2 linked regions of the Homo sapiens genome follow. The protein of the gene in region 2 interacts with the protein of the main gene of each other region in a pairwise test. Each region holds a gene or a part of one and is shown on either strand. Other genes may lie near its edges. The genes, in order: MYOM2 and JMJD1C.

Evidence for each region.
Region 1: the proteins of JMJD1C (region 2) and MYOM2 interact in a two-hybrid assay, tested with the Homo sapiens proteins (one large-scale study listed by BioGRID and IntAct).

What each region holds. Positions count from the first base shown.
Region 1 is NC_000008.11:2,051,468-2,055,292, forward strand, and holds part of MYOM2 (myomesin-2), read left to right. Parts: intron 1-690; coding exon 691-846; intron 847-3,825. UniProt on the Homo sapiens protein: Major component of the vertebrate myofibrillar M band. Binds myosin, titin, and light meromyosin. This binding is dose dependent.
Region 2 is NC_000010.11:63,455,840-63,459,664, forward strand, and holds part of JMJD1C (probable JmjC domain-containing histone demethylation protein 2C), read right to left. Parts: intron 2,874-3,825; exon of another isoform or gene 1-2,873. UniProt on the Homo sapiens protein: Probable histone demethylase that specifically demethylates 'Lys-9' of histone H3, thereby playing a central role in histone code. Demethylation of Lys residue generates formaldehyde and succinate.

The sequences.
Region 1 (3,825 bases), on a different chromosome or scaffold from region 2:
TGTGGTGAAGGGAGGGAGGGACCGCGGGCAGGCGTTCTGCAGCCCAGGTGCCTGCCTCATGTCACCCACACCCTATGTTTAGAAACGCTTAGGGTACTTTTATTTAGTTGCCATCCCTTGTGCCAAACAAAGCCAAACATTTGCAGCCCCTCCCAGCAGCCTTGGGGTGTCTCAAATCCCTCAAGATATATATAATCCTGGCGTGGAGCCAGAAAGACTGTGGCCGGCACTGGCTGGCTCTGAAGGGAGGTGGCACCAGCCACAGTGAGCTCAGGGAGAAAGCACCCCAGGGCGGGCATGTGCGGGGTATGGGTGTGGGCACACAGGGACACAGGCTTGGGTTTGCCTGTGTGCAAGTGTGTGTACACTTGTGTAGGTTTGTTTATGTGTGCACGCGCTGTGTGTATGCATGTGCATGTGCTTGTGGGAAGGCGTGTCCTTGCATTTATGCATTTATTTGCATACACATGTGTACGCATGTATTGTATGTGCATATGCATGCATGTGTGTGCATGTGTGCATATATGTGTGTAGGTGCATGCCTCTCATATGCCTGTGCATGTGTGTGTTTGTGTGTGCTCTGCATATACCAGTGGTTTGGGGTGTGTAGAGAGAAAGTGATGTGTGTCAGGATAAATTTCCATACTGTGCCTGAGCATGCATCTCCTAATCGTGTCCATGTTCCTGAAGGCGAGCTTCCACCCAGGCATCTTCCCAGAAGTCCTTGAGTCAGCGGTCGTCTTCACAGAGAGCCTCCAGCCAGACGTCCCTGGGAGGAACCATCTGCAGGGTCTGTGCGAAGCGAGTGAGCACGCAGGAAGATGAGGAGCAGGAGAACAGAAGCAGGTGAGCACATGGCTTCCCTGACTCCACTTGTGCCCTGCGTGGGGTCACAGTGGAGGGACAGTGGGGTGAGGAGGGAAGAGCGACCTTAGCTGAGAGGGAAGATCAAGGAACACAGGCCATGCCTGGGGTGAGAGGGAGAATGCTGCTGTTTCCCAATCACCTGCTTCTCTTTACCATCATTATCTCAATTAATCTGAACAAGAAAACTACTGGGCACCAGCTTCCCACCATTTTGCAGAAGAGAGCGTTGCTGTTCAGAGCGCTCACGCCACTGCCCAGGATTCCATGTCTCACGCATGTCCCAGCTGGGCTTAGAGCTCCAGGGTCCGTGGCTTCCAAGCCAAGCTCAGTCCCTTTCCAGACAGAGCAGGATAAGCACACATGAAAACATCAAGACCTAGCAGTGTGAGAGTAATTCTGAATTTCCACTTGCAACCTCTGTAGCTATGCAGGAACAGCCGTGGAGGGGTGCACATTCAAGCAAGGTCATCTTCCTAAGCGGGAGCCAGGGTTTTAAACAGTTGTCGTGTGGAAACTAAAGAGTTGGGAAGGGATTCTATAAATTGTCATGCTTTACATTTCAACAGAGGCAGCTCGTGGGGTGAAATGTCATGGGAATGGGATGGATTAATAAAAATGCCAGTCTTAAAATTATTTCCAGATGACGGAGAAACAGGTGGTGATATGGCTTTGATCTTTTAAGGACAAAGTGAACAGTTAAACGTTCGCGGGTGCCTTGTTTTATACCTGCTGTATTTTTTCCCTCATCTCCCCCTGCTACTTCTGGGAATTTTCTCTATATCTTCAAAGCATTTAAAACCTGAAGGAAAAATAAGATTTGAGTAAACATCTTTCATTTTGAAAGTTTCAGAAAGATGAAGTCATCTGTTGAATATAAACAATGTATAGCCAAGAAGGTTAACGAAGGTTAACATTTATTTTTAAAAAATTGAATTTTTTTAAATGTCATAGGATAATTTTGCCATGTAAATGAATTCTAGTGTAAAGTGAAGATTTCTTTTGTGAAAGAATCTCTTTGAAATGTAGATGTTAACACAATCCAGATTTTTATGTATTGGATTAAAGGGTTCTTCTACCTATATTTAGGTTTTGGGGGCTACAATAGAATACTTGAGCTTATCATTTTATTTTTATCATTTAAACATTGATGTGAACTTGAACATATTGCATAAACTTCCTATCGCTCAATTTCCCTGCTGGTAAAATGGTAACAGTGAGTGGCTTACTGTGATTCATATGGTTTTGGCAGCAATGACTTTCAAGACAGCCTTGGCTGCTGGAAATTGTCCTAAAACACATTGGTCTATGCTCTTGCAATACCAAATCTGACTCAAAGAAGGGATTTGAGTGACTGGTGAAGGGGTTATGTTCTCACGGCACCTCTGATCCTCACGTTAAATGCCAGTCTGTCTTAGACGTAGTAGAGACGGGGGACGAAGGCTAGGCACTTTCTCAGCTTTGTGTGGAGCCCACGGCTCATGCTCTCCATGAGATTTTCTTCAGCAGCCCCCGAGTGTTGTATTCTCCTAACCCATGTGCATGTCTTCCATGGGGAAGATCGTTTTGAAATCAGTTCTTTCCTCCTTTAAAGGTAAACATAAGTCGTGGGGATCTCAGTGAGTTGGGCAAGTTCTAATTGAGATTTATTGTGAAGCCTGCTCTATCACCGTCATGCAGAAGGGCCCAGGAGGGATGAGTGAGCCCCGTGCTGAGTGATGTGAGCAGCTCCATGGATTCCAGCCCTTATTAGAATTCACCACTCTCACGGGCTGCAAGCATCATCACAAGCATGTATTTATCCCTGACCTCCCAACGTGGATATTAGTTTAGCGTGCTGGACAAGTTGGTCCTTTGCAAAAGATGAAATTGTGGGCTCACTGATGTGAGTTACTGCTGATGTCCCTGTGTCAAATAAATACTGAAGAGACATTGGCGCTCTGAAGGCACTCAACACGTCCTTCTGGAAGATACGACCCCGATGCTCTGAAGGCACTCAACACATCCTTCTGGAAGATATGGCCCATTGGAAATGTCCCTCTGACATCTTCCTTCAGTCCCAGTGAAAAATGGGCCTCCCTGAATCTTGCAAGCCACCTGTCCCGGGGCTTGTCATTTACAATCAGTGCATGACAAATGACGTTACTGTGCACACGTGGGCTGAAGTGACGGTCAACTGATCATCAGCCGGCAGAAATATTTCCTCAATGTCCTGACTTGGGGTTGGCTGTGGGAGGAATTCCAGACCAATTAGTTATTCTGAATCATGGAGGGTTAGAGGATAGTGGTGCTATTGACCTAAGAATAAGCTGAGGCTCTTGTTACTCAAACATAAAGAGCCCATAGAAAAGTAAACGGTGTCAAGAGAGGACATCTGAACCTTTAAACTCATCACAGTGCTGCGTGGCGCAGACCAAGCTTTGTCTTCTCGATCCCTGCAATTTGGTGGGATTCACTCCCCTGTAAGAAGGCTTGTTCCCTGCAGGACATCTGACGCCATCGTTCATTTCTTGAACACATATTCCTAGAACTCCTCCTGGCACCTGGCACCTGGATACTGGGGAACCAAGTACCTGGATACTGGGGAACCAAGTACCTGGATAATGGGGGAACGAAGTACCTGGATACTGGGGGAACCAAGTACCTGGATACTGGGGGGACGAAGTACCTGGATACTGGGGAACCAAGTACCTGGATACTGGGGAACCAAGTACCTGGATACTGGGGGAACGAAGTACCTGGATACTGGGGGAACGAAGTACCTGGATACTGGGGTAACCAAGTACCTGGATACTGGGGTAACCAAGTACCTGGATACTGGGGGAACCAAGTACCTGGATACTGGGGCAATGAAGAGGGCATTTTCCCGCTTTGTTGGGATTCAGAGTTACAGGACAGGGCTGGTGTCATTCAACATGCACATGCATGTGCTTATAGAGGTGGCACGTGCTCTGCAGGAGG
Region 2 (3,825 bases):
AGGCAGTAGAACCTAGTGAAAAAACACTGAAAATAAATGATATTTTAATTAATCACAATTCTTATTTTGCTCTTAAGACTGAGAAAATCGAGGCAAATTTAATGCAATATTATATTAACTGTAAGCATATTTGCTTTTTTCCTTGTTATACTTAGTAGTTCAAAGGGTCTTAATAATTATTTCTATTATATAACTATGTGTATATGTTTGTATAGTTCAAAACCGTTACGGAAAGGTGAAATACATATAGTCTATATTCATATTCACAACTTACTCTCTTAATTCACATGAACAATGTAAAGTAAAATGGTTTCCCTCAAAATGATTCACTTTGGTATTAAAATATGATCAGAGATTTTGAAAATTATGGCAATAAAATGTTCTAGCGAACAGTGGAAACGCTCTAAAATAGGCTCTACATAGTTTTATCAATGTGATTTTAAAGAAGAAAAAGAACATAGACCAAATAATAGTATAATGTTATTCAACACATTGGAATAGTTCATCAACTTTAAATTCTTATACAAATATTTCTCCTAGTCCTGTATTGCATCAAGATTCCATCTATAGAATCACAATATAGAGAGGAAATAAATTCTGTTAAATATACAGTCATTTTATATTAAATAACACATAATTTTAACCAAACATTAACATACTGCTTCCTTCTTTGATATTCCTCTGAGCCTAAAGATTTTTGAATCTTAAAACTCCTAACTTTAACAGATGGATCAGATGTTTCAGCTCCTAAGTGTCAGTCTTTCACAAGAAATGAATTAGTCACACAGACCTCTTCTAGCTTTGAAAAAATCTGAAATCTATTCTAGGAATGCTGACTATTCCTACTGCCATGTTAACATTTTCTGGCATGTTACATGCAACCTTCTACGTTCAAAATACATAATTTTCATAAGCAATATAGCCACACAGAAAATACTGGAAGAAACCTGAAATAATGAAGAAGCCAAATTCAACTTAAAATTTAACTATTTAGTGATACTAATGTAAATAATTCTACTAAAGAGAATTAGATGAACAGATACCTTCACCAAATGTTTCCAGGGCAACAAAATCTATTCAAGGGATTAGTAAGATAAAAACTTCTCAAAATACTACTAAGACATTATTTGCCTTTTCCATTCATTCTTTCATCAGTGTTCAGAGCAGCAGACTACTTGTGTTTTGTCTGGTAAAACAAAACTATGTCTGCATAGTGCTGACTTATGAAAAACTGCTCTTGTGTTTTAAAAATTTCAGCTTAGTTTTTAATACAGTAAGTATCAATAGATATAACCCAAATAAATCAAGTAAGGAAGGTTTTGAGCAAGTGGTAGTACAAATTGAAAAGAATGGAGACGGGAAAGCAGGTTCCAATTTAAAGGAAGAAATCTGCAGAACTAAGTTAATGCCAACGTTCAAGGTGGAAAAACATTTAAGATGAAGGTGTTTTCAAGCCCAGGTGAAACTTCAAATTAAATCTCAAAATGGCAGCTGGTTTCACATGAAGATAATAAATTATACTTTAAACACTATTTCAAACCCACACACGGGACATTCATGTAAAGCTTCCAAACAGTAGAGACGGTGGATCAAACTGAAAAAAGGCCAAACTTTAATTGCAGATTTGTGAGTAATTATGCAACATAGTACAAGTAAATTCTACAAAGGAAATAACAAGATTAAAACAACAACAACAAACAGTAAGCAAAGGACTGAATTTGAAATACCAAATTAAGAAGATGAAAGGAACTGCAGACAGGAAGGAAGGAGAAATAAAAGTCCAAGAGGACTTAAACCATAGGGCTATAGAAATGAAGAAAGAGAAAGGGCTCAGAAAGAATATATAACATTACAGTTAAAGGGAATTTCGGGTTTTTACTTTGAGAGTCTGTGAATCACAAACCATTGGCAGAAGCAATATGGCAGAGTACAGAGATAACAGATTTGAAATCAGAAATCTGCATTCAAATTCCTGCCCTGACACTTACTGATTGTGTGATTTCAAAAACTCTTTTCAGTTTTTCGTAAGTCAGCAGTATGCATAGTTTTGTTTTGCCAGACAAAACAGTAAACAGATTGTGAGCTGCTGTTTTTCTACTTAGCCATGTATTCTATAATTAAATCAATAGTTCTACAATATAAGATAAATCAACATTTTCATCAATGGGTTTAAGATAATAATTTCGTAAACTAGCTAGAATATAAAATATAAATTCTACACAAAGGGATTTTATCCAATTCGATAATTTCAGACAATGTTTCAACATTAACAATTTAGTAAAGACCAGTTGTAAAACTAAAAGTACGTAATCCCTAAATCTTTCTTTGTCAGATTAAGAATTTTATATCTAATAAAAGTGTGAAGCTGGATGCCATGGCTCACACCTCTAATCCCAACACTTTGGGAGTCTGAAGGCAGGAGGATTGCTTGAGCCCAGATGTTTGAGACCAGCCTGGGCAACACAGTCAGACTCCATCTCTACAAAGAGTAAAAAAAAATTAGCCAGGCATGGTGGCTCATTCCTGTAGTACCAGCTACTTGTAGGGCTGAGGTGGGAGGATCTCTTGAACCCAGAAAGTGACTGCCATGACCTGTAATTATGCCACTGTACTCCGCCTGGGCAACAGAGCGAGACCCTGTCTTTAAAAAAAAAAAAAAGTCTGCTAAAATCCACACTGGAAAAACTATCTGAAATTAGGCAGACATATGATCACTATCAAATCTCCTAACAAATAAAATTAGCAGTATTTGTTGCCATTAAATCTACACCACCAAAAATCGTATTAGTATTCAAATAACAATCCCTCATCCAAACTCTTTCAACATATTTTGGTATTAAAAGTTTATTGGATTTTTATAAAGTTAAATATAGCTTTTTTTTTATTTATTTATTTTTTTTTTGAGGAACAGTCTCACTTTGTCACCCAGGCTAGAGTGCAGTGGCATGATCATGGCTCAATGCAGCCTTGACCTCTCAGGCTCAAGCCATCCTCCCACCTCAGTACCCAAAGGAGCTGGGACCACAGGCACACACCACCACGCCTGGCTACTTTTTGTATTTTCAGTAGACAGGATTTCACCATGTTGCCCAGGCTGGTCTTGAACTCCTGAGCTCAAGTGATCTCCCTGCCTTGGCCTCCCAAAGTGCTGAGATTACAGATGTGAGCCACCGCGCTTGGCCTATAGCATACATTACGGTAGTTGATTATGGTAATATAGTACAAGTCCTTACGTTATGGTAGTTAACTATGGTAATATAGCACAGTTCCTAGGCAACATGTAACATCTCTGAAGGATTTAGAACAGAACCCTAAAAGTGGAGCACATTAATATTTCTCCTATAAGAAATACTCAATTCCTATTAAGCTCTACTTAAAAAATGAGTTTAGTCAATCAGGTTTTGCTTCCAAATGAATCATTAAAAAATGTAGTTGCTACAGCTATTTGAATTTCAGAATTGCAGATAAAGAATAGTGGACCTACAGTTATTTATCTGACCAACACTGACAGAGTATAAACTAGGGTTTATGATATATGTGACCTAAAAAGCCAAGCTTGCCCTCTCTTGCTAATTTCTGAAATATTAACGATGTATCTCTCCTGAAATTTCTATTTAACTGTGAGGAGTTATGGCACACTTCCTAATATAAAAACTCAATGCTATTTCTTATTTGTAAATATTTAGAAAGTTAGATATTTATACTTCATACACATTAAAACAAATTAATTTTTACAAAGCTTTGGGATACACCTGGACACATAAAAGCAGAACATATCACCCTTTTTGAAAATCATCAGAGTTATACAAAAATCAGTATGACAAG